Homo sapiens: one gene and its partners. The protein of the gene in region 4 purifies or fractionates together with the protein of the main gene of each other region. This does not show direct contact. Each region holds a gene or a part of one and is shown on either strand. Other genes may lie near its edges. The genes, in order: HMMR, ANKRD26, CYTH1 and CCDC40.

Region 1 (7,804 bases), on a different chromosome or scaffold from region 4:
TTGTCAAAGGACTGTGGGCTAGATATGAGTTTGTATTATTGTAATATATCTCACACCTGTGTATCTGTCTCAGTGGATACTTTTGTTATTAATCTTTTCTGTTTTCTTATGATTAGTGATGCAAATGAACAGCAAGGTTTTTCATATCCCTGCTTTTGGGGGAACAATACAAAATTGTAATTAGGGGTGTTGTTCTATACTACAGCCAATCTCAGGGAACAGGAATCTTGGGAAAATAAGATAATGTCATTTTAAGAGAGGAAAGAAAATTGAGATAATTTTTTATTCCAACTCAAAAAACTGTGGTCCAATGGTCAAGAGATAAGGATTTTTATTACTAATTCTGTTAGCTAGCTGGTTGATTCTGAGCAAAACAATCTTAGTTTCTTTGATCTTCTACTTCATTAGATATAAAAGAGTTTTATTAGATGGTCTCTAAGATCCCTTCTAGCCTGGAAATTTCAAGCTTAAGAGAAAAACAAACTAAGAATTGAAAATAATTCCTCTAGGGGACAGGGAAGAAAATATTTTTATTATAAACTCTTTAGTCATATTTGATTGCTCTTGCTGTGGTGTGTATATTTTTGAAATCCGGCACTTGTTACAGAATGAATTTGATCAGCTATTTTTCTTATCTCAGTGTCCAACTTAGTCTATAAGTACACAATGCTTATTTACAATTTTTAGTTCTGTATATTCTTTAAAAGATCTCTCATAAGCTCATATGCATATCTAAAAATTTTATCACCACTTTGGAAATATATTATTTCCAAAATATCCCTGAGATTTAATAGCATATGTATATAAAAATGACTTAAAACCCATTCTGTCTATGCAAAATAATCCATTAAAGAAGTTATTAAGTCTTTCAGTAATAGAGTATTATGTGGGTTATTCATATAATCAGAATAAATCCACAAAGTCTTGTAACTCTGTAGTTTAAAATGAAGTGGCTTTAATTGTTCATGGTATTTCTCAAGTGTCTAAATGGAGAGAATGAAACTTTATTCAATCCAGATGTTTTTTGACTGGTAATCTTTTGCAGTCTTTAGTCCTGGCTAGTATCTTAAGATTTGGTTTTATAGTCTTTTATATCCTACTACCTTCTTCACCCAAATTTTTAAAGTAAAATAAGCAGGAAAGATAAGTTGAAGCTAGTAGAAAAATGCATAAAAAACATGCTTTCGAGGTAAGTCATAAATTAGGATCTGAGCTATTTAGCAGGTAATGCAGTGGTGAAGATATGAGCTATATGATTCACAGTTTCAAAGGTAAATACTATTTTCTTTCTTAGGGTAGTAATTGTAGGTGGCATTTTATCTTTCAATTATTTCTTTTTCTTAGGAAGGAGGCTGAACTGGAGAAAAGTAGTGCTGCTCATACCCAGGCCACCCTGCTTTTGCAGGAAAAGTATGACAGTATGGTGCAAAGCCTTGAAGATGTTACTGCTCAATTTGAAAGGTATTTTTCTTGGGAGCCTGCACTCTTAAATATGATGTGTGCAGAAAGGGGTGTTTACCCCAGGAAATATGTGAGCAAAGCAGTCACACAAAGGATGATTCATACTAGTTTAAATTCCATAATCACCAACCGTAAGTGGGCATTTAGCATTATCTGGTAATCTTATTGTATTTATATAATTCCCCTTTATAATTTATAGAAATTCCCCTTTCTCACCATCCACTTCAACTTTTATGTGCTGAGCCAGGTGCGGCAGCATATGCCTGTAGTCCTAGCCACTGCATAAGCTGAGGTGGGAGGATCAAGTCATGTACTTAGAAGCATTTGGTGCTTCTGCCCTACTCTCTTGATGTTATCATTTTCATAAAGAATTCAGAAGTTTTTATCTCTTGCTAAACCTATAAAGAGACCCACATTTATACTCATCCTATCTTCCCACCTATTACAGATGAAATGTCCTAGTCTTTTAATCTTCAGTGACCTCATTCTATCATTTTGTTTTCTCATAATTTGAAACCTTTTTACTGGAATTTTTCCAATCAATATTAAAACATGTTAATGTACATCTGTCTGTAAAATATATTAATTAGCTGGCCACTGTGGCTCATACCAGTAATCCCAGTGCTTTGGGAGACCAAGGCAGGAGGATTGCTTGAGGTCAGGAGTTTGAGACCAGCCTGGGCAATAGAGTAAGACCTTGTTTCTACAAAAAAAAATATTAAGAATTAGCCAGGCATTGTGGCACATGCTACTTGGGAGGCTGAGGGCAGGAGGATCACCTGAGCCCAGGAGTTCCAGGCTGCACTGAGCTAAGATCACACCACTGCGCTCCAGCCTGGGTGACAGAGCAAGACTGTCTCAAAAACAAACGAAAAATAAATAAAATACATAAGTTGTTTTAAATACTTCTCTGACCCTAACTTCCTTTTGTAGCTGTCTCACACCACCAGTCATTCCCTTCTTAACCCCAAATTCTACTCCTTTTCAGTCCTTTTCCTTCTCCTCCTTTTTCTTCTCTTGACAGAGAAGATTGTCTCTATATCCACTTCCTCACCTCCCATGCCTTCTACTTATTTTCTCCTTAAATAAAAAGTTTATTTTGGGTGGAACTACAAATTACAAAGGCCAATATAATGAATACCTATATATTAATGTTAACATTTTTATTTATCACATTTACTTTAGCTCATTTTGGGGGAGAGTTTCCTTTCTTTTATTTAATAAATACAAAAGAATGCATAACATGTACATAAACTGTAGAGCTTGAAGATAAAACTGACATGCATGAACCTATAAAAGACAACCAGTAAGCCAAAAGATTTTCAACAACTTAGTATCCATATGTAAGTTCCTCTGCCATCCCATGAAAATGGGACAGATAACACTGTCCTGAAGTCTACACTAATTATTTCCTTGCTTTTTCCCCCCTGTGTATTATAATTTTATGACACGTATATCCATACAAATAATGCATTATGTAATTTTCCTTCTCCTTGAACTTTACCAAAAAATGTCATCATAGTATATGCCGTTTCCTGGGACTTATTTTTTCATTCTGCATTATGTGTGTTTTCAGGATTGAATTGTGTTGTCTGAGGCTATGGTTTGTTGATAGTCACTGCTATGAGTATTTTATTGTATGAATATACCACAACTTATTTATTCATTCTTTGGACTTTGAGTTGTTTCCCATTTGGTTAGTTATTATTAGTTATTTTGTGACTATAAGAATACATGTATGTAAGAATTTCTCTAAAGCCAAAGGTATATGAATGTTCAACTCTAAAACTTAATATCAAATCACTTTCCAATGTGGGAGTAAGAATCTACACTCCCACTAGTGTTGTATAAGTTTCCATTTATCTTCTTTGCCAAAGCTTGTTAGACTTCTTAAACTTTGCCAGTGTACTTAGTGTAAAATGGCTTCTTATTGTGGATAATTCATCTTTCCTTTTCCATAAAATGCTTGTTTATGACTTTTGTTTATTTGTCTATAGGGTTATCATCTTTTCCTCATTGATTTGTAGAGGTTTTCTTTATCAGCCATATGGGTTACAGGTATCTTCTGCCAGTTTAGCTTATTTTTTTATTTTCTTTTTGGTTTCTTCTGATGAGTGGAAATTCTTGATTTCAATATGGTTAAAATATTTATCTGTATGTGGGTACTTTTGCTTCTCATTTAAGAACTTCTTTCTATCTCAAGGTGTAAAGATATTCAACCAGTTTTCTTCTAAAAGTCTTAAAATTTCACTTTCCATTTTTCCACCTAGAACTGATTTCTGTGTGTGTAGCAATATAGGGATCAAATTCATTTTTTGTTTTCCCTATGGACAACCAACTGCCTAGTTTAATTTAATTCATTAAATTGTACCTTGTTTCCCCAGTGATCTGTTCCCACATGTGATACATTATGACAGACACATAGATAAATAATTTATAAGTGTATATGTTTTATTTATAATTTTTATTGTATCAGAACATATAAATCATATAAATATATGTAAATTTTATATATATATATTTATTGCTAATATCAATCCTGTAAAGGAATTTCCCTTCTCGTTAGTTTGAAGAATAGTGCTTCAGGGGGTTTTTATCTATTCTGTGATTTTAGTCACTATCCATATACTCGTGGCATTAAAATTTATTTCATCAAACCAGACCTTTCTTTACAGCTCCATATTCACATATCCAGTTACCCACTTGACATCTTCAAGTAGATATCACACTGTCTTTTAATATTAACCTGTCCAAACCAACTCTTGATCCTTCCATTGCTTTCTACCCCTAGTCTCTCATTGTTTTTATTGTAATCAGTGACATCATCTTCCCAGCTTTTCATTCTGTAAATCTTAGAGTCATCCTTCATCATTCTCTCTTCCTTACCCCCAATATTCAGTCTATCTCTTGAATTTTCCTACTCTGCTTCCAAAAGAGATCTTGTGTCTTTCCATTGCCAGCTCCTTAGTCTAAGCCTCCTTTATCACTCACCTGGGCTGATAAATAATTGTTTTGGAGTTGATCCTTCAATTTTCCATTCTTTTCCCCTGCCCTAATCCATCTTCCTCATAGCTCTAGAGTGAGCTACACATTTAATTAAACACCTTTTTATTTTATTTATTTGTTTATTTTGAGTCGGAGTTTCGCTCTTGTTGCCCAGGCTGGAGTGCAATGGCACTATCTCAGGTCACTGCAACCTCCCCCTCCCAGGTTCAAGTGATTCTCCTGCCTCAGCCTCCCGAGTAGCTGAGATTACAGGTGTCCACCACCACGCTTGGCTAATTTTTTGTGTTTTTAGTAGTGATGGGGTTTCACCATGTTGGTCATGCTGGTCTCGAACTCCTGACCTCAGGTGATCCACCCGTCTCGGCCTCCCAGAGTGCTGGGATTACAGGCATGAGCCACCACGCCCAGCCTACTTGGACACCTTTAATGGTTCCCGTCTGTCCGCCAGGTAAGCCCACTGTGCCCTGCGGTGATGACCCTCATGCCACCAGCTTCTGCTCCAGCCTTTCTTACTCATTAGGCTCTAGTCTCACTTCTTATTTTTTAAATTGTGAGTAATTTTCATGCTTGGTAGTTGATTTCTTTTCCATCTCTGTATGCATACTTCCTGCACCTAGTAGGCACTTGATTTTTTTTTCTTTGAATACACAGCAGATGCCATGTAAACTCATTAGTACTTGCCTCAGAACACTGAATTCTTACCTGTGTTAAATGCATGAATACATTAAAAACTTTTTAGTTTTACTTAGAAGTATATAAAGTGTAAACTAATCAGTTATGATTGTCATACGCAATAGTTAGAAAACTACTTTGACTTTTTTTTCTTTTTAATAAGCTATAAAGCGTTAACAGCCAGTGAGATAGAAGATCTTAAGCTGGAGAACTCATCATTACAGGAAAAAGCGGCCAAGGCTGGGAAAAATGCAGAGGATGTTCAGCATCAGATTTTGGCAACTGAGAGCTCAAATCAAGAATATGTAAGGTATATAGAGCAAATAATGGCCTTAGAACCATTAAGACAATTTAATGTTGAAAGCCAGCTAGTAACTGTCCCTTGGCTTGCTTTTGGCCATCTTATACTGCAAATTAAGAATTTACTCAGTTAAAAAATGACACTTCTTGAAGAGTTCCTTGAGGTTTAAAGAAAAAAAAAGGAAAAATTAATGAAAGTGGCTATAAAATGTTTAGTGACCTCTTCTCTCTCAAACCAAAGGATGCTTCTAGATCTGCAGACCAAGTCAGCACTAAAGGAAACAGAAATTAAAGAAATCACAGTTTCTTTTCTTCAAAAAATAACTGATTTGCAGAACCAACTCAAGCAACAGGAGGAAGACTTTAGAAAACAGCTGGAAGATGAAGAAGGAAGGTAATCTATGATTAGAACCTGAGTGCCTTGTTAACTCAGTTACGATGTGATTTTTTAAATAACTATGTTTTTCTCAATTTAATTCTTCCATGCAGAAAAGCTGAAAAAGAAAATACAACAGCAGAATTAACTGAAGAAATTAACAAGTGGCGTCTCCTCTATGAAGAACTATATAATAAAACAAAACCTTTTCAGGTTTGTCAGTTAGGAGTAAACTTACTTGTGTTTATTTTAGGGACTCACTTTGTTCCCTATTATAGTGAGGACAGTGACTCGGGTTTTCTGCAAGATCATTTTGCTCTGCACTTACAGTGCCAATTTAGCTCACTATTAAAGGTTTATACATTTTATTAAATTATGCATAATTTTTTCCCACATTATTGAAGTATAATTGACAAATTTAATTGACATAATTTTTTCAATGGACCCTTTGTGGTTTAAAAAAAAACTTTGTAATGTGGAACTTAAAAGTTTGGCTCAGAGGGCTTGCCTGGTATGAGCTTTTGATAATTAACCTATTTTAATTTGTGGTATGACTTATTGCAAATACTCATTGTTTCTCAATATACTGATCTTTTAAAAGAAAAAAGAATAAATGCTGATTTTGGAACTTAGAAGTACAGTATTGGTTATAATGTGGTAATCTAACTGATACAGATAAAACTGGCCAGCTGGCTTTTTTACCTTGTTTCTTTTCCTCTGTTTTAATGATCTTTAAAATGAAAAATACAAAGTTTAAAAGATTCTCATAGAGAATCTATGGAGAGCCCTGAGAATATGTGAACATACCTTGTTTTCATTTGTGTTTTTAATTTTCTTTAGTGTTTATGGTTTATATGAAACTAGTAAGATCAAACTGTTTTAAGTCTTAACTTTATTTAAAAAATCTTTTTCAGCTACAACTAGATGCTTTTGAAGTAGAAAAACAGGCATTGTTGAATGAACATGGTGCAGCTCAGGAACAGCTAAATAAAATAAGAGATTCATATGCTAAATTATTGGGTCATCAGAATTTGAAACAAAAAATCAAGCATGTTGTGAAGTTGAAAGATGAAAATAGCCAACTCAAATCGGTTTGTAAAATGACTTTTCATTTTATTAAAGATATTGGAGTGGGGGTTATTCTAACTATAATACTTAAATAAAATGAATATCTTTGGTATCAGAAAAAAATAACTGTTTATAGAGGAAAATTGAGCTGTGATTTAGTGGATTTATTTTAGAGTGTTGACCAGATGGGCATTCAATGTTCTAAAGTTTTCTAGCTACCTTCTTAATATATTGAAAATTACTTGAGTAATTGGATGAATTCATTAAGCTTTACATATCTATTTCCATTTGCAAAACTGCAAACTCCTTGATGTAAAACCATAAAGAGAAGCAGTGTTCAAAAATATTTGGGCATTTAAATTTTTTAACATATGTATTGAGATATAATTGACAACCCATACAATCCACCCATTGAAAGTGGACAATTCAGTGTTTTTTAGTATACTCACAGATTTGTGCAACCATCACCATAGTCAATTTTAGGACATTTTCATCACCTCAAAATGAAACCTTGTTATCCTTTTCCTAACACTCTCCTATCTCCTCACCCCACCCCACCCTTCAGCCCTAAGAAACCACTAATCTACTTTCTGTCTCTGTTGATTTCCCTATTGTGGACCTGGCATATTCATGGATTCAAATAATATGTGGCCTTTTGTTACTGGCTTCTTTCAGTCAATTAGCATAATATTTTCAAGATTCACCTGTGTTGTAGCATGGAGAGTACTTTATTTTTTTTATAGCCTAATAATTCATTATGTGGGTATACCACATTTTATTTATTCGTTTGTCAGTTGATAAACACTTGTTTGCACATTTTTGGCTATTATGAATAATGCTACCATAAACATTCATGTACAAGTTTTTGTATGGACATTTGTTTTTTCCTGGGACATATTATTTCCCTGGGAAATAATAGGA
Region 2 (8,299 bases), on a different chromosome or scaffold from region 4:
TGCCTAGAGACCAAGGGGTGGCCCTGGCCCAGGTTCTGCTGTGCTGCTGGGTTGCTTCTTCGTGTTCCTTCTACACCAATGTCAGTAGTACTCTGCCCAGGCTGTGCATTCCCAGAGCATGCAGTTCCTTGAGTACCCTGAGCTTTGGCCCCAGCCAGTAACCCTTTTAACATGGACACCATGGTCTTCGTGAGCAGGCTTGTAACAACTTCCTGCCCTCAAGCCTTGTACTGCTGTGTGGGGAACTGGGCTTCCTGCCTCCTCACACCATCTATGCACGTATCAGATTGGGCCCCTGGTACTCCAGAAGGGCGTTTGCTGTTTGCTCGATGACTGTGGACCAGCTCTGGCCTTGGCAACCACACCTTCTCCAAGGACATCTGAATCCCCAGCCTTGTGAAGCCACTCATTTTAAGTTGTTCATACTTTGGGTGTAATCTCATCCTAAAGGATTCTTTAGATTTTTCTTTTCACTTTTATACTACTGTTACAGTTAATAATAATTTTTCTTTGAGATGCGGTCTTTTTTTTTTTTTTTGAGATGGAGTCTCACTCTGTTGCCAGGCTGGAGTGCAATGGCGCAATCTCAGCTCACTGCAACCTCTGACTCCCTGGTTCAAGCAATTCTCCTGCCTCAGCCTCCCGAGTAGCTGGGATTACAGGAATGCACCACCACACCCAGCTAATTTTTGTATTTTTAGTAGAGATGGGATTTCACCGTGTTGGCCAGGCTGGTCTCGAACTCCTGACCTCGTGATCCACCCACCTCGGTCTCCCAAAGTGCTGGGATTACAGGTGTGAGCCACTATGCCCGGCCCGAGATGGGTCTTGCTATATTCCCCAGGCTGGTCTCAAACTCCTGTGCTCAAGTGATCCTCCTGCCTTAGCCTCCCAAGAAGCTGGAACTACAGGTATGTGCCACTGAGCCTGGATAATTTTTTTTTTTTTTTTTTTTTTGAGATGGAGTCTTGCTATGTTACCCAGGCTGGAGTGCAGAGGCACGATCTCAGCTCCCTGCAACCTCTGCCTCCTGGGTTCAAGCGATCCTCCCACCTCAGCCTCCTGAATAGCTGGGATTACAGCCATGCAACACCATGCCTGGCTAATTTTTTTGTATTTTTAGTAGAGACAGGGTTTCACCATGTTTGCCAGGCTGGTGTTGAACTCCTAACCTCAAGTGATCCGCCCACCTCAGCCTCCCAAAGTGCTGGGATTACAGGCATGAGCCACCATGTCTGGGCATGGCTAATTTTTTTTTTTTTTTTTTTTTTTGAGACAGTCTTGCTCTGTCATCCAGGCTGGATGGAGTGCAATGGCACAATCTTGGCTCACTGCAACCTCCGCCTCCTGGATTCAAGTTATTCTCCTGCCTCAGCCTCCCGAGTAGCTGGGATTACAGGCGCCTGCCACCACACCTGGCTAATTTTTGTATTTTTAGTAGAGATGGGGTTTCACCATGTCGGCCAGGCTGCTCTCCAACTTCTGACCCCAAGTGATCCACCCACCTCGGTCTCCCAAGGTATGTAATCTCTGCTGGGATTACAGGTGTGAGACACCACGCCCGGCACTGGCCATGGGTAATTTTAAAACACTTTTTGGAGACATGTTCTGGCTATGCTGCCTAGGCTGGTCTCAAACCCCTGGCTTCAAGCCATCTTCATGCCTCAGCCTCCCAAGTAATTGGGATTACAGGCACAAGCTACCATGCCAAACTTCTATAGCAAATAATTATTTGTATTAAATTGTTCTTGTTCAGGTTACTAAGTGGTTTCTCTCCTGATTGAAACCTGGCAGACACATTATCTCTTTCTAGGATGTACTTTTTTTTTCTTTCCATCTTCTCCCCTCTCACAAACTCCTGTTTATTCTTTAAGTCTCAGCTTTTAAAATTTAATTTAATTTGATTTTAGAGACAGGGTCTTGCTGTGTTGCCCAGGCTGATCTCGAACTCCTGAGCTCAAGTGATCCGCCAGCCTCAGCCTTTCAAAGTGCTGGGATTACAGGTGTACACCACCATGCCCAGCCCTAAATTTCAGCTTTGACATCACTTCTTCATGTGCCTCTCTCCATGACCTACCACCCTTCTCTTGACATGATTCTATAGGCCCTCTGTGCTCCCCCTTAATGTGGCACTAAACATGAAATTTGCCTCCCTCCCTGAAGTGAAGAATAACACATCTGTTGTTTCCTCACTGACTCTCACAATACCTAGAATAAAGAAGGTTCCCAGAACATGTTTCTGTTTAATGTGGTGGCCTCCTTACTGTGATCATCCCAGGTCTTGGATCTCCAGGAGATACAGGTAGATGGGCCTCAACACACTTGAGCCCTTATGTTCTAATCATGGTTTAATTATAGTTTCATTATTCCTCAATAGACACAGCAGAATGCATGGGAAGACACATTTCAAAGAATGAATGAACCAGTTTTGGAAAAGGGTTTGATGAGTTTCTTGGTAACTCTTAAAAGGAGAAAACACGTGTGACAGCCTTGAACTGGAATTAAAGAGCTTTATCTGGCCAGGCACGGTGGCTCACGCCTGTAATCCCAGCATTTTGGGAGGCCAAGGCGGGCGGATCACGAGGTCAGGAGATTGAGACCATCCTGGCTAACACAGTGAAACCCCGTCTCTACTAAACAAAATACAAAAAGTAGCCGGGTGTGGTGGTGGGCGCCTGTAGTCCCAGCTACTCAGGAGGCTGAGGCAGGAGAATGGTGTGAACCAAGGAGGCGGAGCTTGCAGTGAGCCGAGATATCGTGCCACTGCACTCCAGCCTGGGAGACAGAGCGAGACTTCATCTCAAAAAAAAAAAAAAAAAGAGCTTTATCTAAGGGATTTGCTAAGGCATTCATATCTCAGTTGATTTTCACTATAAAACAAATATTCCCCTAACACATTAATTTCATTGACATAATTATTAAATGAGGGTATAGGAAAACTGAACCAGGGCATTACTTTAGCCTTAGATAGGCATGGGAGTTCCAAGTGACAACTTTCTAGAGGGTGTCTGCTCTGGATCTGAAATTAATTTCCATATGAATGGGAGATCTTAGCTTTCAATGAACTCCAAGAAACTTTTTGGGGATCCAGCATTTGGCTGATGAATTCAACACCTCAGAGCTGGCCTAACATATAGTCCTTGGGTATCTCTGGTCTATACAAAAACACTATAGTCAACCAAATCTCTACAACTTACCTGGAGAGTGGTGTGTGATTCCTATATCCATCCAGACTGGTAATGTCTTTGGCCTTAATTTCAGGCTGCATTAGGAAATGTCAGAGTCCTCTGTTCAGAGTCAGTGTTCTCCACACTTGAGTATTTTTTGTTTGTTTTTGTTTTTGTTTTTTGAGAGAGAGTCGTGGTCTCCATCCAAGAGTCTCCACTCCAGAGGCAGTGGTGTGAACCTCTGCCTCCCAGGTTCAAGTGTTTCTCCTGCCTCAGCCTCCCGAGTAGCTGGGACTACAGGCATGCACCACCACACCCAGCTAATTTTTGTATTTTTAGTAGAGACGGGGTTTCACCACGTTGGCCTGGTCTCGAACTCCTGACCTCAGGTAATCCACCCACCTCGGCCTCCTAAAGTGCTGGGACTTGACTAGCTTCATAGATCACCTTGGGGAGTGTTGAGGAGACAACATAACTTTCTAGCTGGGGTAGTGTAGGAGGAAAATTCTTGGTGACGATAGTGGAAACCACTCTCCCACATCAAAACCATTTGATCTAGCTAAGCTGGAGAGGCCTGAGAAGTGTTGTTTTGTTTTTGCTCATTTCTCACTTGGCAATAAAGACGCCTGTTCTGGGGCCAGCCACCTCCTCCACAAGGGACCCTAGAGCTGTCCAGAGCTATGGAGGTGCATTCCAGCAGCAATTTCTGCTGAGACTCCACTTGACGTCTGCGTTGCTAATTCCAATTTGTTGTCAAATTATTCAATCTAGGCTGGGCGTGGTGGTTCACACCTGTAATCCCAGCACTTTGGGAGGCTGAGATGGGAGCATCATTTGAGCCCTGGAGTCGGAGACCAGCCTGGGCAACATGGTGAGACCCTGTCTCTACAAAAAATGCAAAAATAGCCGGGCGTGGTGGCTTGCGTCTGTAGTCTCAGCTACTCACTCAGGAGGCTGAGGTGGGAGTATCGTTGAGCCCAGGAGGTGGAGACTGCAGTGAGCCGTGATTGCACCACTGCACTACAGTCTGGGCGACAAAGCGAGACTCTGTTGGGGAAAAAAAAAAAAAAAAGAAGAAAGAGATGTAACCTTGGAAAATCAAAAGCAAAAAATAAAACATAAGGCTGGGCCAAAGGCAGAGGGGTGGGGGAAGGAGGCATGCAGAAATGCGTTCTCATTTCTTCTGGAGAATGTGCATTGGTTTCTCCTCGTAAGTTTGCACTTGACACATATTGCCACGATCTCCGAAATCCTGTGCCCTCTGCACTTGACACATATGCCACGATCTCCGAAATCCTGTGCCCTCTGTTGTTGCATCTGTTAAGTTCTCATGGAGACCAGATGGCACCCAAAGGGACATGGAAGGGGAATAAACTGAGAGATAGGGAGATTCAGAGAGTTTCTTAGGGGAGTTTTCTCGGAGAAGAGGCTTTCAGCATCTTAAAACTCCACGCTACTCCAGTCCCAGTCATGCGTAAAGGCTGCTTCCCCACAGGCGCGAGGCTTCTTTTCGCAAACGTCCTGAACACTCAGCCAGACTCCCACCGACATTTGTTTGACAGGAACGCAGGGCTCGTCCCAGTCGCCGAGATTTGCGAGGTCTGGGCCTTGCACATGCGCATGGAGCACACTTGACCACTGGGCCTTCGTGCGCACGCGCGTGGACCTTGCCATCTGAGGTGCGCATGCGCACTTGTGTCTAGCGGGATCGCTTGCTTGGTAACCCGGAGGGAGAGATTGGAAACCGCGGAGTTTCCTTTGGGAGGCTGCGGCCAGCCGGGGCTGACTTGTTATGTTGGGCTCCGGAGGCCGTTAAGAGCCGAGAGAGACATGAGGTGTCTCTGAAGCCCGGTCGCCTGGGCCATGAAGAAGATTTTTAGTAAGAAGGGCGAGTCGCCCTTGGGCTCCTTCGCGCGGCGGCAGAGGAGCAGCGCGGGAGGCGGGGGCGAGCCGGGGGAGGGCGCCTACTCGCAGCCCGGCTACCACGTCCGAGACCGAGATCTCGGCAAGATCCACAAAGCTGCCAGCGCGGGTAATGTGGCGAAAGTGCAGCAGATCCTTTTGCTCAGGAAGAATGGCTTGAACGATAGAGACAAGATGAACAGGTAATAGGCGTCGCAAGCCCGGACTGAGTGCCACTGGAGTAGGCGGGCAGGAAGAGGGGCCCCTTTTGTGGGAGCCACCCAGGGCCTGGATCAGCCTCCCGCGGGCTCCGTAGCCCCTGGGACGGTGACACCTTGCAGGGCTCCAGCGCCCAGGCCGCCTTTCTGAGCAGAAAAACAAAAACAGAACTCTAGCTGGTTTCCGATCCCCCCGAAATCCCTTAGAGAGCACTTAAGTGACAATTTTAAAGTGAATTAACGAACAAAAGCACGTACAGCGTTTTATTTTTAATGTACACATTTAAGATACAATGTCATACACTTATGGAAAGGTGCATAATGAGATAAGCAGTTTCCATAATATAGCAACTTCTGGGTTAAAAATTATTTCTATAAAATCTGTTATTCGTCAGGCGCGGTGGCTCGCGCCTGTAATCACAGCACTTCGGGAGGCTGAGGCGGGAGGATTGCTTGAGGCCAGGAGTTCAAGGCCAGCCTGGGCATTATAGCGAGACCCCCCCCCCCAACTCTAATAGTCTCAGCTACTTGGAAGGCTGAGGCAGGAGCATCACTTGAGCCCAGGAGTTCTAGGCTGCAGTGAGGTATGTCAGTGACAACAGAGCAAGACCCTATCTTTCAAAAAGAAAAAGAAATAAAATGCCTTTAGGAAATAGATATACAAGTAATTTGTTTTTCTCAGCATTGCTTAAGCAGTGTATTAAGGAGAACCCATAGAATGGATTTTGTGAATAAATGTCAGTGCATGATAATATGTGACCATTGAAAGTGGCAGTAGAGGCCAGGCGTGGTGGCTCGCGCCTGTAAACCCAGCATTTTAGGAGACCAAGGCAAGCGGATATCCTGAGGTCAGAAGTTCGAGACCAGCTTGGCCAACATGGTGAAACCCCGTCTCTACTAAAAATACAAAAATTAGCTAGGCATGGTGGTGGGAGCCTGTAATCTCAGCTACTCCGAAGACTGAGGCAGGAGAATCGCTTGAACCTGGGAGGCAGAGGTTGCAGTGAGCCAAGATCGTGCCATTGCACTCCAGCCTGGGCAACAAGAGCAAAACTCTGTCTCAAAAAAAAGAAAGAAAGAAAAGAAAGTGGCAATAGATACAGAAGTGTATTGGCATGTGAGGATATACTTTGGTATCTCAAGTGAGAAAAAAAGTTTGATTATACATACAGACTGTGGTCTTGTGTTAGCTGAAAATATGTACAAAACGTGGTAAAATTTGGCCAGGCGCGGTGTCTCACGCCTGTAATCCCAGCACTTCGGGAGGCCGAGGCGGGCGGATCACGAGGTCAGGAGATCGAGACCATCCTGGCTAACACAGTGAAACCCCGTTTCTACTAAAAATACAAAAAAATCAGCCGGGCATGGTGGCGGGCGCCTGTAGTCCCAGCTACTCCGGAGGCTGAGGCAGGAGAATGGCGTGAACCCGGGAGGCGGAGCTTGCAGTGAGCGGAGATCACGCCACTGCACTCCAGCCTGGGCGACAGAGCAAGACTCCGTCTCAAAAAAAAAAAAAAGTGGTAAAATTTGTTATTTCTGGGCATTTGTATAATAAGTCAAACTTTTTTCTTTATGATTTCTGCAATGAGTATGTATAAAAGTTCTAGTGAAAATTTATTATTAATGAAGTAATCCTTGGGAAGAGAGGAATATGAATCTTGCACAGATAAAAATCATTTCCCACTTTCTTTTTTTTCTTTTTTTGGTGGATTGCTATCGTCTGACAACTTTTATCCTTTTCAGAAGTAAAGGGGATCTTGGCTGGGCACCTGTGGCTCATGACTGTAATCCCAGCACTTTGGGAGGCCCAGGCAGGAGGATTGCTTGACCCAGGAGTTCGAAACTAGCCTGGGCAACATAGCAAGACCCTGTCTCTATTAAAAATGAAAGGTAAAGCAGATCTTTGTTCTTGCCACCAAAAATTAAGAAGATAAAAAATAAAAATAAAAAAAGAAAAAGTAAAGGGTATCTTTTTATCTGTATTTATAGATTTTATGTATACATTTTATCATATACATGTTTTTATTATAGATTTATTATATATGCAAACAGGTACAATCATTTTATTTTAGTTGTGTCCTTATGACAATAAAAATACCAAATATAAATGATAATTAGGCTGGATGCAATGGCTTAGGCCTGTAATCCCAGCACTTTGGGAGGCTGAGGAGGGTGGATCACTTAAGTCCAGGAATTCAAGACCATCCTGGCCAACGTAGTGAAACCCTTCTGTAGTAAAAATACAAATATTAGCCAGGTGTGGTGGTACACACCTGTAGTCTCAGGTACTTGGGAGACTGAGGCAGGCAGTAGAATAGCGTGCACCTGGGAGGCGGAGGGTACAGTGAGCTGAGATTGCACCACTGCAATCCACCCTGGGTGACAGAGCGAGACTCCATCTCAAAAAAACAAAACAAAACAAAACAAAAAAAAGATAAATATTATTGCAAAAGAATAAAAGAATTACTCTACTTTATAAGAATTTTATTTAAAAATATTGAACTCCCTAATGATTTTTCCATTCTTTCAATCCATTTATTCATCAATCATAACCTGAATACCTGTTATGTAGCAGACATAGTCTACTATCTCTTTTTTCTTTTTTTCTTAGACAGAGTCTCCCTCTGTTGCCCAGGCTGGAGTGCAGTGGCCAGATCTCAGCTTTACTGCAACCTCTGCTTCCTGGGTTCAAGCGATTCTCCTGCCTCAGTCTCCTGAGTAGCTGGGACAGCTAATTTTTTTTTTTTTTTGTATTTCTAGTAGAGACAGGGTTTCACTGTGTTAGCCAGGGTGGTCTCGATCTCCTGACCTTGTGATCTGCCCACCTCGGCCTCCCAAAGTGCTGAGATTACAGGCTTGAGCCACCGCGCCTGGCCTTTTTTGTTTTTGAGGTGAAGTCTCGCTTCTTCGCCCAGGCTGGAGTGCAATGGTGTGATCTCGGCTCAATGCAACATCCATCTCCTGGGTTCAAGCAATTCTCCTGCCTCAGCCTCCCTAGTAGCTGAGATTCCA
Region 3 (7,804 bases), 1.3 Mb from region 4:
AGAACAACCTGACAAGTCCCTGAAGCATCTCAGTAACTGTGCGTGTTTGGGGTTGTTCTTTTTAAGTGTAGCTACTGCTCAGGGAATGCTTAGGCACAAACCTGAGGGGTCTTGGGCTAAGAAAATATGTTTCCCCAAAAAAACCAGCAAATGGAGAGGAGACACCAAAACCATAACCAGGAGACCGATTCGGGGCTTTAACGAGGACTCGCTGAAAAAGCGAGGGAGCAAAACAAAACATAACAACAGAGCCGAGGCTGTTAATACCCTTCTCTGATCCCCAGGAAACTAAACACGAGGACTTCAGGGAGGGTTTTTTGGTTTGGACTTGTTTTTTTCACCTTCACTCGGTATCATTTTGAGTTTAGGAAATACCATTTCCCCTTTTCGTGCAAAGGCAAATGTCTTAAGTATCATCTAATTTAGTTCTTTCCCTAGTTTGCTTTTCCATCATGGTAAATCAGAAGCTTTCCATAGCTTTGGGAAGTCAAGACTTTGTTCTCTCTGGAGTAAGTCTCAGCTTGAAAAAAGAAGAAAAAAGAAAGACTTCCTTCTCTTCTTTCTCCTCTTCCCCACGTCAGAGATTAACTTTCAATCAGGCTGATTAATGGACGTCAAATTGAATATCAAACATAGCGCATGTCTTAGCCAATAATTCCAAGTGAAAATGTCATGGAAACTTCCTCTGCTTTTACAAACCCACTCTTAGTATGTTTTCTTGCATTACTGCATTCAGTAATGAATATAACATATACTCCTCCAAAAAAGAAAAACGAAAATTGCTCCAAACCCCTGATCCTGACCAGTTCCCTAGGGACTGTACAATAAGTTAGAAGCAGCATTAACACTACCACCGGCAATTAAAAAACAAAATAACCAAAAATAACGAAATCAGAAAATGCTGCAGTAATGACAGTGGCCTAGCAGAGCGAGCGAGCAGGCTGAGGGTTACATACCTCCTGGAGTTTGGGGCAAGGAAAAGGAGAGCCAAAATCATGGAAACATACAAATGAGGGAGAAAAGAAAATTAAAACAAAGAAATTAAACCCGATTCCTTAATCTTAAAGTGCAATGTATCAGTCACATTCATGCCTGCCTGGGGAGAGAGCTGAACTAAAAACACTCAACGGGCAAATGATCCCACTACTGTCTGGCACGTGAACGAGGGGCTCTTACATGCCACGTTCCACCTCATCAAGGCAAGATTTGAGGCACTACTGGAAACCTGGCCCCAAAGATGCCACAAATCGGCTTTTACAAAGCCAATGTTTACTAGTATATCCAGAATCAGAGCAAAGAAAGCTAAGGTTATTTCAGGGAAAATTAAATGTCTTTCTTGAGATGGCTGTCACTTTTTAAAGTGTGTGTAAGAATGCACACACATATACCCATGAGTACACATGTACTGATGTGTATACACAAGAATACACATTCTTATGGCTATATGCATACACAGACATATACACACAGCTACAGACGGCTGGAAGCCCTGCCTTCTGCAGCACATAAACACAAAGAGTGATACTAAGTGTGCTACAATGAAAACACAATATTCAGAGTCTAGAAGGATTTGATGGAGGTTTAGAAAAAGTAATGCAATGAGCTAAAACTGAGTCCCACACTTGGTTAAATTTTCTCTTTTTTAAAATACGAGATGCCTCATGAATTTGCATGTCATCCTGGTCTAAGAACCAAGATAATCTTTGTACTGTTCTAATTTTAGTATCTGGGCTGTCAAAGCTAACACTTAGTATTAGCATTTAAACAAATCTCGCTGTAGGGGGAAGTAAATCCAAACTTGAACACACTTTAAACGTTTCCAGTAGGTTTCCTTTCAACTCCATCCACTTGGCAATAGGAATGTGGAAGGGAAGGCTGCCTATGGGGTTAGTAATTTTAGAGCCTTAACTTCAAAGATTCTGGGGGCTTAAAGATATATAAAATGATGGCCAATTCAAGAGATATTTAAAACTGATCGGTGAAGTGGTGCTGTAAGGGGAATTTATGAATTAAGTCATTATGTATAAGCACAAGGACTTGGGATATGACTTTAAAAGGAAATATAAAGTCTACTGCTATCTGACCTAGTCAGAAATAAAGGATTCCATTTTAGCCTTCCCAGATGTGTCAGTAATGACCAAGAGAGTACTGACTTCTAATCACTGGGGCAAGCAGTTGGGCTGGTATAGGACGGAACAGCCCCTGCTAATGTGAGAACCCAACTCATCAAAGGCTAAAGCAGAAGGCAACAGAGGAAAGTACCCTGCTAGTGTCCAAAAAAAAAAAAAAAAAAAGGACATCATTATGTCCAGAGAGTCTAGAGCTCTATGTTCTGAAACCATTAATAAAGTAAACACATGTGGACATGAATGTGTATGAAAACCCTACTAAAGTCTTTCCTATTGATTACCCTGTCACCTTCACGGCAAGGCATGACCACAAATCTCAGCAATACAAGCTCATCACTTCTGGCAAAGGGAAGAGAAATGCATTTTCAGCTTTTCTAAATGAACAAAATAATTAATGTGGCTGATTCAGATTGAAAAGGAGGGGAAAAAAAAAAGAAAAAAAAAAAACCACTGCCCAAGAATGAGTAAGAGTGCTGTGGATTGAGCTGCAGCCAAGGGCTCTAGGCTTGCCATGCACACTGCCTGTGGGGGAGCCAGATGCAGAAGGAAGTGACGATGCACTGGGGTGGGGGCAGGAGCGCCAGGTACAAATCTGTGGGATGGGAAGTAGAAAGATGGACAAGGTCGGCCACCCTCCCAGTGGTTATGGGGACAGGGAAGGCAAACGGACCAGGTGCTCAGGGAACTGCCTTGAAACAAAACCTGGTCAACCAATTCAAGGGTAAAAATGTGGAGCACAGACACATGTGGGCAATATTTATGGTGGAGTAAGTCTGTCCCCAGTAGTCTCTGTGTCCCATGGGGGCAATGACTATGAAGTCACTTCCCTTTTGGAAGCCGACCTTTGTTAGAACAGAACTCATACCAAAGTCTCTCTGGAGTCCTCTATAAGCCACCCCCTTTCCTACATGGTGCGTGTGTGTCCATGAATGTGTGTGAACATGCATGCGCGTGCACACACACGCACGCGCACACATGCACACGCACAAACACGCACACGCGCACACACGCACGCACGCACACACGCACACACACCGCCTTTCTTCCTAAGTCTCAGCTTTAGGAGCCCTGACTCAGAGGTGCGCTTACCGAGTTTCAATAGCCAGCCTTCTCGGTCTGGATTGAAGAAAGTGTGAGTGAGGTCATTCCCGTCGTCTTCTGGGATTTTAAAGGGTTCATTTTTTATGCTCTCATAGAGATTCTGGGATAAAAGATGACAATTTATGTCTCTGATTCTAGAAATATTTTTTCCTCCTCCCCTTTCTCTTCATTCATTCCACAAGCATTCATGTGCCTATAGTAAGCCAAGCCTGCTAGATGCTGAGACTAGAAGATTATGACCATTTCTGCTTTCAGGCAGCTCACAGTGACAAAATAAATAAGCCTTCCCAATTAGGAAAATAAAGAAGCAGCCTGACTTCTATTCAAGCTTTTAGTTTCATGTTTACAAACCACTGTCCCCTCCCTGATTCCCTAGCTGGGCCTTACTACCACTTTCTTAATGAAATTCACATGGTTAAACAAATTAAAAGAGGAGACCCTTGATAAATTGTATGTTTTTTCTTCCTTCCTACAAAAGACGATCCTGTTCCCAGTGAACTCTTTCTTGACTTGAATGAAGACCATTCTTCCTTGCTTACCCGGAGGAGCTCCTCCGGCAGGTCTCCCCCATCATTGATGCCTCGGTTCATGGCAATGAACCTCTCCACAGTGGGCTTATCTTTGACATTGGGGTTGTGCAGACTGGTGTTCAACATGATGATGGCAAAGGAGAGGACGTAACAAGTATCTAAAGATGAGAGAAAAGCAAAGGGGAGCCGTTGCATGCTCAGATGTTCAGAAACATCCCACCCGCAAGAGCAAGAGTGGTATCAGATGAAATCAGGAATAAAAAACCATGTTCTCGGCCAGATGCAGTGGCTTACACCTGTAATCCCTGCACTTTGGGAGGCCAAGGCAGGCAGATCATGAGGTCAGGAGTTCAAGCCTAGCCTGACCCACATGGTGAAAACCCGTCTCTACTAAAATACAAAAATTAGCCAGGCGTGGCTGCACGCGCCTGTAATCCCAGCAACTTGGGAGGCCGAGGCAGGAGAATTGCTTGAACCTGGGAGGCAGAGCTTGCAGTGAGCCGAGATAGCGCCACTGCACTCCAGCCTGGGCGACAGAGTGAGACTCCATCTCAGAAAAAAAAAAAAAAACATGTTCTCAAAAGAATGAGATGAATCCACATGTACGGGTACACTCCAGGGCACACTGCTGTCTGAAAGGAGCAAGGCACGAAAAAGTATATAAAGTATTCAAGACTTAAAGCTGTTTATTTTTTCAGATTGGAAAGGAGAATACACACACTGTAGAAACTCTGAAAAACACAATGTGTTTAAAACAAAATGACCTGTAATGACCCATAATCCCACTATCTAGCAATAATTTATTTTGCTTTATTTCCTCTACGTAAATATGACTATGTATAACTCACCACATATTTATCTCACAGATATATACTGTAACAAAACTGGAAACAAACAAATACATACACATGCTTTTTTGCTAATCTTAATATCATTCTCCTATGTCAATAAAAATTCTTTGTAACAATATGGGTTTCTTTAGTTTTTGTTTTGAGACAGGGTCTCACTCTGTCACCCAGGCTTGGAGTGCTGTGGTGCAATCATAGCTCACTGCGTGTAGTCGTAAACTCTTGGGCTCAAGAGATCCTCCTGCCTCAGCCTCACAAATAGCCGGGACTACAGGCATAAGCCACCACACCTGGCTAATTTTTAAAAATTTTTTTGGAGAAAGGGTCTCATAATGTTGCCCAGGCTGGTCTCAAACTCCTAGCCTCAAGCAATCCTCTCACCTCGGCCTCCCACCCAAGGTGCTGACATTACCAGTGTGAGCCACTGCATGCAGCTAAAACATGGTTTTTAATAGCTGTGTATTTCGTAGTTCAGAGGTACCACAATTTAAATTCATAGTGCCTTAATGTCAGACTTTCAGGTTATTTCCAACATTTTACTATTATAACTATCATTGAGTAAACGTTCCTAGGCATGAATCTCAGCCCTTTTGTTTTAGAAATTATCTGGTGCCAAGAAAATAATCCAGTGTAAAACGCCCATCATAAACTAGGATGAATGATCGTATTTACCCGTGGACTGGAACACGCCATTATTGCACTGACAATATCGCTGGGCAAACGCCTCCATCATCCGGTCGATCTTCTGGGCCTCTCCGGGTAGCCGGAAGCTCCACAGGAACTGCCTGAGTGGGTAAAGACAGAGTGTTCCAGAACTTGGGGAGGCAATTTATTTCTCTATGAATTGTTAAACTGCCAATGATTTTTTTTTTCTTTTTTTTTTTGAGATGGAGTCTCACTCTGTCACCCAGGCTGGAGTGCAGTGGCGTGATCTTGGCTCACTGCAACCTCTGCCTGCCGGGTTCAGGCAATCTTCTGCCTCAGCCTCCCGAGTAGCCGGGACTACAGGCACACGCCACCATGCCCGGCTAATTTTTTGTATTTTTAGTAGAGACGGGGTTTCACCATGCTGGCCAGGCTGGTCTCAAACTCCTGGCCTCAAGTGATCCACCCGCCTCAGCCTCCCAAAGTGCTGGGAGTACAGGTGTGAGCCACGGTGCCTGACCACTGCCAATGATTTTTTAACATCAAAGTGCAAAGGGAACCCTGCTGGGCTGCAGCCTTCTGTTACTGTAACTCTGAACAGATGCAAAGTTGCCATCCACACCACTGTTACCTTAATCAAAAGTAAAATTTTTCTTAGGAAAAAGTGAAAAATTAGGAGGGAAACAATCCCTACTGAGGAGTGGTTTCCCTCCTCAGAATAATATACAAGACTGAAACATAGATAATGCTCATTTTAAACAAACGCTATTTCCGGAAACAATATGGGTGGCAGAAAAAGAGAAGATTGTCTTGTCAAAGCATTAACAATCGATCCCTTTAAGTCAAAGAAAGAAAGACCCACAGCTGACAGGTTTAATTGTGGATTGTTTCCATCCAGCTAAATGATAGCACAAAAGATGAAGTCATTATTTACACCTACAGCAGTGAAAATACAGAATGACAGTTTCTTAAAAGGCATGAGGTAACAGATTTAATAAAAAATTAAGGTTTACTTTTTTCTTTCCAAAATGAAATGTATAACTACTTATTCCAGGGCAAGAAATTAAAGGATTTTCTAAACTGAAAAATTTCAAAATTTAAGTATTCATCAATTTCTAAAACCTCAAATATAAGACTCAAGGAAGAGTGTTACAGAATCGGCCTCCAGAACGTAACAGAATTGAATTCCCCTTGACCATCCAGTCATTCCCAGTCAGAGACCAATAGATTTCTTCCCTCCAAAATACTTCAAAATATTCAAATCATACCCAAAGATATAATTTCAATAAAATGCCCCCCAGGACAGACTCATGATCAAAGGCTAGCCTCCCACTCCTTCCAAAGGGGCTCACCTCAAGAATACTCACCGTAGTGCCTGGACGAGATTAAGATCAGTGAACTCATGCAGCTCCACAAATGCATGAAGAACCTGGATATTAAACTCATCTCTATCGAGAAAAGACAAAAAATGGGAGAGAAAGCAGGAGTCAGGCACCAACACTGAGAATCTCCAGCCAGGCCATGTCTCCTACACTGCGTCCTGTGGTCCTGTGGCTCCTGCCCAGACAGCCACTTGTGCACACTGTCCGCAAGAAGACTGGCTAGCTCTGCTGACTGGCTGAACAAGCAAGATGTCTCCATGACCCCCAGAAAAGACCCATCACTATTCCCCAGAAAAGCCTCCCCTCAACTCCAGTGGGGCTACAGATGCTTTAAGGCAAAAACCCCTCCAAGAACTTCAGAGTATTTGGGAGTTTGTTTCTTTGTGTCGTTCCTGAACAGCCTTCCCTAGCATGCGCATAATCCCCAAGGCCTTACCTCTCCCCTAGGTAGTCGCCGATGGCTGTCTTGTTGAGCCCTTCGCCTTTATATAAGAACTGGGCAATGTCTTCACAAGTGTTCTTCAGGAGGTCGTTCTCTATTAAGAACTGGATCCCCTAGAAAAAGACAACAAAGACGCCAATGATGCTTTGCTGGGAAACAGTTGAAAAGAAGGGGAAAGGGCACAGGAAGAAATGGGTGTGGGTGCACTGGAATATTTAATAAATACTTGCTAAGTGACCTATAAAGCCGGGGAGTCACAGTTTAGGAACAAGGGCTTAGTGCATAACATTTGCTCTACAAAACGGCAACATGAACTGTAACGCTTGGAAAAAAACGTTTTTAGGGTCTATCTGAGCACTATAAAAAAACCCCATCTAATATGGACCACTTCCCGCTTCTTTCTCACTTACCTTTTTAGGGTCCATATTAAATTTTTTCCTGCCCATGGCTACCTGTTTGTTCCTCTGCATGTTTTTCCTGTAAAACAACCATCACAGCCATTTTAGTACTTCAGGCCATCGGAAAGGCTTGAAAGACTAATATGATTTCCACTGATTTACACAGGTTTTTGAAAGATTTATCCAGGAAAGCAACAGGCATAATCTGGTGGAACTATGAAAGGCCAACTGAAACCTGAAGCCTGAACCTGGCTCCAAGCTCCAAGCTCATTTGCTCCTTCTACCCTGGAACAGAGGTTTTCTTTATTTTTTTTTGAGACAGGGTCTCT
Region 4 (7,740 bases):
TGGAGCATTGAATTCAGGCTCACTCAACATGCAAAAAGCAGTACACGACTGAAGTGTGCAAGCCAGCATGGATGCGGGCTTGGCACCCGCAGTACGTTGGCTTCATAGTGACCAATCCAGAAAGACCACGGAGAAAATACTGCCACATCTCAGCGTCTGCAGCCCATACAGGCAAGCAGACACATGTATCACCTTCCAACGCCTGCACAGACTCACCGCCCAAGGCTCAGCAACAGAAGGGCAGGCCATTCCGACTGGACAGTGGATTTGGATTATTTCTCTTTTCTTTCTGTTATTCATGTGTCAGAAGCCACCACGGGCAGAAATCGAACTTAGTCTTACAGTGGCCCGATTTCTCTCATCCTTTGAGGATGGTTATGTAAGTTCCGAAGACAGAGTAAAGAACGTATTTCAAATCAGATGCCACCAGACAGCTCATAAAAGCAGATTTATTAGAGATGCAACATCAGGTGCTCAAAGGACAGATAGGATAAAAACACCAACAAAGCCAACAGGATAAAAAACACTGCCGCTGAGGTGAACGGAAAAAGGCCTCCAACATCATTGCCCCATATTTTTGGGAAGGGTGCAAATGTGTGCTCTCTCCTGTGCACTGGCCTCATTAACAGCAATATAATGCAAATGCAATACAAATGGTGTACAATTCGATCATAAAATCATCCTCTGCGCTGTCACCTTCACATCCCAGAGCCACCCGCCCCCGGTGCTTAATGCTGGATGAAACAAAGTAGCTAATCTTACAAGAGAATTTAGGCCTGTGACAAAAATCAGGGTCCCTCAGCCAGGGAAGAAGGGGAGCTAAAATTTTCACAGGAGGTGGTGTTGCCAGGCAACCTGATCAGCTCTGCTCCCCATAGCATCCTGCAGGGACCCAGCCCCCGGTCAAGTTGTAAAGATAAGGGTACACATACGCACAAATAGTAAATCCTACATCTGCCTGGAATCACTTTCCACCTCATGGACCACACAAAGGGGAGTGAGGAGTCAAAGCACAAAAACAAAATGTTTTGTGTCAATCTAGTTAAATGTGGAAAATCCAAATAACGGTCATTAATAACAGTGTTAAAATGTTACCATTTGACATTACTTACCACATCCTAAATGGTAACTCAGGATGTGTCAGGAATTCAATGCTTTTCATAATCCTTGCACAAAGTCTCTGAAGTAGGTAGTATAGATGGGGAAATTAAGGCACTGGAGAATTAACTAAGTGCCAGAGGAGTTGGGGTTTTTGTTGTTGTTTTGTTGTTGTTGTTGTTTGGGTTTTTTAGGTTTTTTTTTTAAGCAGAGTCTCACTCTGTCACCCAGGCTAGAATGCAGAGGCTGGTCATGGCTCACTGCAGCCCTGACCTCCCGGGCTCAAGCTATCCTCCCACCTCAGCCACCCAAATAGCTGGGACCATAGGTGCCCACCAGCATGTCCAGCTAATTTGTTCATTTTTTGTAGCGATAGGGTCTCTCTAGGTTGCCTAAGGTGGTCTTGAACTTCTGGGCTCAAGTGATTCTCCCAAAATACAGGATTATAGGTGTGAGCTACTATGCCCAGTCCAGGATTTGTATTTGAAGCCAGCAGTCCATCTTTCTACGCCATGTTCTTAACCACTGCACCTTATTACCCAAAACTGTGGACAGAGACCAGTGCAATTGTAGGTAGGTTCTGCAAACTCAATGGCTTTATCCTGAAGCCTGGGGGATGCTTTCCATACTGAAGTGAACTGAGATTAGCAGCTAGTGGTGACATGGGATTAGTCCCACCTCCTTGCACTGTTATGAACCACTTGGAAGAATGTTTGTATATGAATGGTGGGCACCCTCTGTAAGACAGAGGGCAAAGTTGTACAACGGTTTTCTGGAGCTGGGACGTCCTGGGCCTAAGGCCTAATTCTGTCACTCCTAACTGCATGAGCTTGGGAAGTTACTTCTCTAAGCGTCAGTGTTCCCATCTGTAAATGGGCATAACTGCAGTCCTGACTTCATGAGCTTGTTTTGTGGGTTAAGTGAATTCATGCATGATAATTAGGAACTACTAACGCAATCACCAAAATTGCTAGAGGATTAAATAATTCCACAGATAAAAACTTTTTTTTTCCTTTTTTTTTTTTTTTTTGAGACATAGAATGTTGCTCTATCACCCGGGCTGGGGTGCAGTTGCACATCTTGGCTCACTGCAACCTTCGCCTCCCGAGCTCAAGCGATTCCCCTGTCTCAGCCTCCTGAGTACTGGGATTACAGGCTCACGCCACCACACCGGGCTAATTTTTGTATTTTTAGTAGATATGGGGGGTTTCACCATATTGGCCAGGCTGGTCTCGAACTCCTGACCTCAGGTGATCCGCTCGCCTCGTCCTCCCAAAGTGCTGGGATTACAGCCGTGAGCCACGGCGCCCAGCCATAAAAACTTTCGCCATAAAAACTTTCGTTAGCCATAGTCTCACCATAAACATGCCACTTACAAAAAAATATGCGCACAATAACCACGCTCAGGATGCAAACAACATCCATTAATGAACTTTGTAGTTAATACCAAAAGTTACTCCTCACTTTATTCTTTATTTACAAAAGCTTTCATGGTTCTTAAAAGTGTTTAGTATTCACCAATTTTACTGTTAGCGTTTCTAATGAGGATTTTCTAAAACTGAGGCATGGATTTGAAAAAGTGTTCTGATCAATCAGTAACAGATTTGGAATGGAATCTCCAGCCCCCAGTCTTTGCGCCCACCCTCTGGCAATATGCCGCCTCACGTGAGCATCTTTAAGACGGAGTTCCCTTTTTATTCCAGATAAAAGAATTAGGAGCCTTCTGGTAGAAAAGAAAGCAGATCTTCAGGATCAAGTCGCAGAGGCTGGCCAATCAGCCCAGCTTCTCATTTGAACTTGACCCAGACAGTAAAACAAACTTTACCATAAGGCGAGACTAACTTTTGTTATGTCTTTTCTATTCATTTCCTATTTCTGAATCAAATCTGAACTACTTTGTGGCCAATATACGACACCAGCTTCCGAGTGTGGGAATCACAGGATTTCAGGATTCAGCGGCTTCCGGCAGGATCCCCTAGGTTATGTTTAGCAATCTTCAGTTGCCTTTCCTTTTTTTCTTTCCTTCCTTTCGTTCTTTCTTTCTTTTTCTTTTTTTTTTTTTCCCAAAGGAAAGAACAAGGGAGCCCAGGCGGAACGGAAGTGAGTATCCCGACACGCGGATCTTAAACAGCCCAGACCACCAAGCCCGACAGGCCGGGAAAGCTGAGCGCGCGCTGCTGGGGGGACGCACACTTTGGAGGCTGTGTGGGCGCGCGCCGGCACCCCACAAGTTCTCATCCGTCTGCTCCGCCGATTCAGCCAGACAAAGACCGCAAGTTCCCCGGTCCACCGCTCCAGACAGGCGGGGACCAGTCTCCCCGAATTAGGCCCATTCCGGGCCCGGGCGCCCTCACTCGCCGCGGGGAAAAGTCCCCAGGTGCCCCTCCGTGATCCAGGTCCTCCCACAACGCTCCCGCTCCTGCTGGCGCCCCGCACCCCGAGGACGGCGGCCGGACCCCGGCCCCTCCCCGGTCCCGCGGCTGCAGGCCCACGCGCCCCACGCGCCCCGCGCGCCCCCGCCCCAGCTCCGCCGAGGGGGCGCTGCTCGCTGCGCGGTGGACCCCTCGGACCCCGCCCCCGCGGCCCCGTCCGGGCCCCGATACCCACCCGGGTCCCGCTGCGGGGGCCGGATTCGCGCCGGCTCCGAGAGCCGCCACCGTCGCCTCCGCCGCTGCCGCCGCCAGTGAGGCGCGGCGGGGCGGGGACGCGCGGGGAGGCCCGGCCCCCGGCCCGCCCCCGGGCCCGCCCCCGGCCCGGCCCCTGCCTGCCCCCGCCGGTCTCCCCGCCCACCTTCTGGCCCAGCCCTGGGCCCAAGCCTCTAGTTCCCTGCTGGCCCTCCCTCAGGCCTCGCCGCGTCCCGGCCTCGGGGACTGTGCCCCGTCCCGAGCCTGGCGTCCCCAAAGGAAAGGCAGGGCTCCTCGGACGCTCCGCGTGCGCGCTGGCCCTCCGCTGCCGCCCTCTGCAGGGAGATTTCTCCTATTTCGGACTAGGAAGGGAAGATACGCTCCGGAAGACCCCCCGGGCGTCCATGCAAGGAGTCTCCGTAGGACCCCTGGAGAAGGGCACCGGAGCCCCCTAGGGCAGGAGATGGAAAAGCGCTCGCCATGCGCGGGGTCCCCGGCCCCCGGTGCCCCCAGCCCGCCTGCCATTCCCGGGCGCTTAGCAGTCCGGGGTCCCCAGGTGCCCGGCAGGTCCCTTCGGGACCTCGAGCCGCCCGCTGGGCACACGCTGACGCCGCTGTCGCTTTACAGAAATTGAGCGCAGCCGAGGCGGGACCCGGGCGCAGAGAGCGATAAAGGAAAAGCATGGTCGTGCTCTAATCATTACAGTCTAAGGGACGACACGTCGAGACGGCGCGCGCCTCTGCGTGCGTGGAGATGGCACAAAGGCCGCGCCGCCCCCGGCGGCCCCCGCCCTCGCAGCGCGCGTGGTCCCGGCCCGGCCGGATGTTGACAGCGTCGCCTAGCAACGGGAAATGGCGGAACCGGGCGGCGCGGCGGGCCGGTAAGCCGGGCCGAGGGGCAGCGGGTCTTGGAGTCGCCAGGCCGCGCTCTCCGTTCACCGCTCCAGGTGGCCCCCGCGTCGGCTCCTGCCTCGCCCCTTCGCCTCCACTCCCCCTTCCTCTCGCCTGTGTCCCTTCTCTCGCCATTTTGCTGGCCTTTCCCGTCCACTGCGTTCAGCCCCTCACCCCCCCGCCAACCCTTCTCACTTCTCCCCTCCTGTCCCTTTGTCCTCTCTCGGCCTCCCTCTTTCCCCTACTCCAAGCGCGCGACTCCCTCTAAAACCCGGGACCGCTCACTCTGCAGTCACCATGGCAACCACTCTGCGTGGCGGTCCCTGCGCGCAGTCCTCCTAAGAGTAGAGGGCTCTGCAGGGCGCGGGGCTGTTGGATACCGCCCCTGACCTTGCTCCGGGGCCACTCGCTGTGGCCGGAGACCAGCCCGGCCCCGCGCCTCCCTCCTGCAAGGACAGATCCCCTCTCGCAGGCTTGGGGGTGACCCGCGATGGGAGGGGTCCCTGCGGTTAGGCGGCCCGCGATAGTCCGCGGTCACCGTCCTGGGGCCTGGGTGGAAGCACTGAGCGCGCACAGGGAGGGCGGCTGAGTGAAGATCCCTGCCACCGGGCCTCTGCTCGCTTAGGCTCTGTTTAAAAGGATAGAAACGATTGGAAAGAGTTTGGCCTTTTTACCTTAGACACATCGGTATTGTTTCATTTTTTTAAAGGTGGGTCTGTATGTATTGACATGGAAAGACTAAAGGTATTATTAATAAAACGATAGGCATAAATGTAAAAGGGTAGGTATACTATGATCTCTAATTCAGGGTGTGTGTGTGTGTTTAAAACATAGAAAAATGTTGAAAGAATGTGGTCCTAAATGTTATCAATGATTATCTTGGGAAGGAAAGGGAAGATCACAGGGAACTGTCACTGTCTGTCTCTTTGAACATATCTATATTCCTTTGACAGATAAAAATAGCTTGAATCTTTAATTTTTTAAAAAAGATATACATATATATATATATATATATATATTCCTGTGCTACGTAAATCGTGGAGAAACTCAGAGTCCCCAGAACACTTACTCTGATCGCGCTACTTTCTCTACGTTGTATTTCTTTTCCCCAGTTTTGTCCCAGACACAAGTTATATTTGAGGTGACTTTTCTGGGGTGATCTAATCCTGCTGTTCCTTCGATGTTTTAATAATTATATTTTTCATTCATTCATGGAGCTTTGCTTTTGTGGCATCTCCGCCACCTGACAGGCATGATATAGTGCTATGGTTCCTGACAAACAGGACAAAGACGTGACAACAGCCTGGGGGTGGCAGAGAAGTAACAAGTAAATAAACAGATGTGCAGAATTCAGGAGGGGATAAGGACCAAGAAAAAGAAAGCTGTTGCTTGAAACTGTTCAATTGTTTCTCTAAAACCAGGTCCCATCCGGAAGATGGATCGGCTTCTGAGGGAGAGAAGGAAGGGAATAATGAAAGCCACATGGTAAAATTCCCTATGGGCAGTTATTCCGGGCTTATATTTACTAGGAATTAAAGAGAATCAGAGTACGGGCACTGTGGCTCACGCCTGTAATCCCAACACTTTGGGAGGCCAAGGCAGGTGGATCACATGAGGTTAGGAGTTTGAGACAAGCCTGGCCAACATGGTAAAACCCCATCTCTACTAAAAATATAAAAATTAGCCGGGCGTGGTGGTGCGCACATGTAGTCCCAGCTACTCGGGAGGCTGAGGCAGGACAGTGGCTTGAACTCGGGAGACAGAGGTTGCAGTGAGCCAAGATCACACCATTGCACTCCAGCCTGGGTGACCAGTGAAACTCTATCTCAAAAATAAATAAATAGGCCGGGCACGGTGACTCACGCCTGTAATTCCAGCACTTTGGGAGGCCGAGGCAGGCAGATCACGAGGTCAAAAGATCGAGACTATCCTGGCCAACATGGTGAAACCCTGTCTCTACTAAAAATACAAAAATTTGCCAGGCATGGTGGTTCACGCCTGTAGTCCCAGCTACTCGGGAGGCTGAGGCAGGAGAATGGCTTGAACCTGGGAGATGGAGGTTGCAGTGAGCCGAGATTGTGCCACTGCACTCAGCCTGGCGACAGAGCGAGACTCCATCTCAAAAAATAGATAAATAAAATTAAATTAAAAATAAATAAATAAAGAGAATTAGGACTTGGTCAAGTATATTGTATGATGACATTATCTTGCACCAGAACAAACTCAATTCAGTTGAAGAGAGACTCATTTTCTTCCTACCCCATTCTACAGTGTCAGTGATTAGTCAGGGATGCAAAGGATGTCCAACTTTGGGTTGCCCTGAGTTTTTCGGAACTCATTTCCTGTAACAAAGGATGCAAAAATGATTATGAAAAGCAGAGAGGGCCAGGCATGGTGGCTCACGCCTGTGGTCCCGGCACTTTGGGAGGCTGAGGCGGATGGATCTCTTGAGGCCAGGAATTCAAGACCAGCCTGGCCAACATGGTGAAACCCCATCCCTACTAAAAATGGAAAAATTAACTGGGCATGGTGGTACACACCTGTAGTCCCAGCTACTTGGGAGGCTGAAGCAGGAGAATCGCTTGAACCCAGGAGGTGGAAGTTGCAGTGAGCCGAGATCACGCCACCGCACTCCAGCCTGGGCAGCAGAGTGAGCCCCTGTCACAAAAAAAAATAAAAAAAGAAAGAACAGATAAACTGAAGCATGAAACATGATTTTTTTTTTTTTTGAGACAGAGTCTCACTCTGTCTCCAGGCTGAAGTTCAGTGGCACGATCTCAGCTCACTGCAACCTCTGCCTTCCGAGTTTAAGCAATTCTCCTGCCCCAGCCTTCTAAGTAGCTGGGATTACAGGTGTGCACCACCATACCCAGCTAATTTTTGTATTTTTAGTAGAGACGGGGTTTCACCATGTTGGTCAGGATGGTCTCAATCTCCTGACCTCGTGATCTGCCTGCCTCAGCCTCCCAAAGTGAAACATGATCTCTTAGTGATGCTGAGAAGGGTATAAATGCAGTTTTCCCATTGATATAATTACACTATAAAGAATAAAACCTCACAAGGTCCTTTATACTTTGTTTCCTGATTTTTTTCCTGCCACACCTTTACAGGTGTCACCACCAGAGAAG

What was found.
Region 1: the proteins of CCDC40 (region 4) and HMMR purify together in Homo sapiens (affinity purification with mass spectrometry; 2 studies listed by BioGRID and IntAct, with this or other methods). This does not show direct contact.
Region 2: the proteins of CCDC40 (region 4) and ANKRD26 purify together in Homo sapiens (affinity purification with mass spectrometry; 2 studies listed by BioGRID and IntAct, with this or other methods). This does not show direct contact.
Region 3: the proteins of CCDC40 (region 4) and CYTH1 purify together in Homo sapiens (affinity purification with mass spectrometry; 2 studies listed by BioGRID and IntAct, with this or other methods). This does not show direct contact.

Annotation. Positions count from the first base shown.
Region 1 is NC_000005.10:163,477,340-163,485,143, forward strand, and holds part of HMMR (hyaluronan mediated motility receptor), read left to right. Parts: intron 1-1,344; coding exon 1,345-1,461; intron 1,462-5,264; exon of another isoform or gene 5,265-5,302; coding exon 5,303-5,449; exon of another isoform or gene 5,450-5,680; coding exon 5,681-5,833; exon of another isoform or gene 5,834-5,928; coding exon 5,929-6,028; intron 6,029-6,729; coding exon 6,730-6,906; intron 6,907-7,804. UniProt on the Homo sapiens protein: Receptor for hyaluronic acid (HA). Involved in cell motility. When hyaluronan binds to HMMR, the phosphorylation of a number of proteins, including PTK2/FAK1 occurs.
Region 2 is NC_000010.11:27,097,058-27,105,356, reverse strand, and holds the start of ANKRD26 (ankyrin repeat domain-containing protein 26), read left to right. Parts: upstream 1-4,862; 5' UTR 4,863-5,030; coding exon 5,031-5,272; intron 5,273-8,299. UniProt on the Homo sapiens protein: Acts as a regulator of adipogenesis. Involved in the regulation of the feeding behavior.
Region 3 is NC_000017.11:78,695,051-78,702,854, forward strand, and holds part of CYTH1 (cytohesin-1), read right to left. Parts: intron 7,555-7,804; coding exon 7,488-7,554; intron 7,191-7,487; coding exon 7,072-7,190; intron 6,702-7,071; coding exon 6,621-6,701; intron 5,394-6,620; coding exon 5,281-5,393; intron 3,919-5,280; coding exon 3,770-3,918; intron 3,331-3,769; coding exon 3,219-3,330; coding exon of another isoform or gene 3,218-3,218; intron 960-3,217; coding exon 957-959; intron 1-956. UniProt on the Homo sapiens protein: Promotes guanine-nucleotide exchange on ARF1, ARF5 and ARF6. Promotes the activation of ARF factors through replacement of GDP with GTP.
Region 4 is NC_000017.11:80,032,090-80,039,829, forward strand, and holds the start of CCDC40 (coiled-coil domain-containing protein 40), read left to right. Parts: upstream 1-4,552; 5' UTR 4,553-4,573; coding exon 4,574-4,602; intron 4,603-6,033; coding exon 6,034-6,097; intron 6,098-7,722; coding exon 7,723-7,740. UniProt on the Homo sapiens protein: Required for assembly of dynein regulatory complex (DRC) and inner dynein arm (IDA) complexes, which are responsible for ciliary beat regulation, thereby playing a central role in motility in cilia and flagella.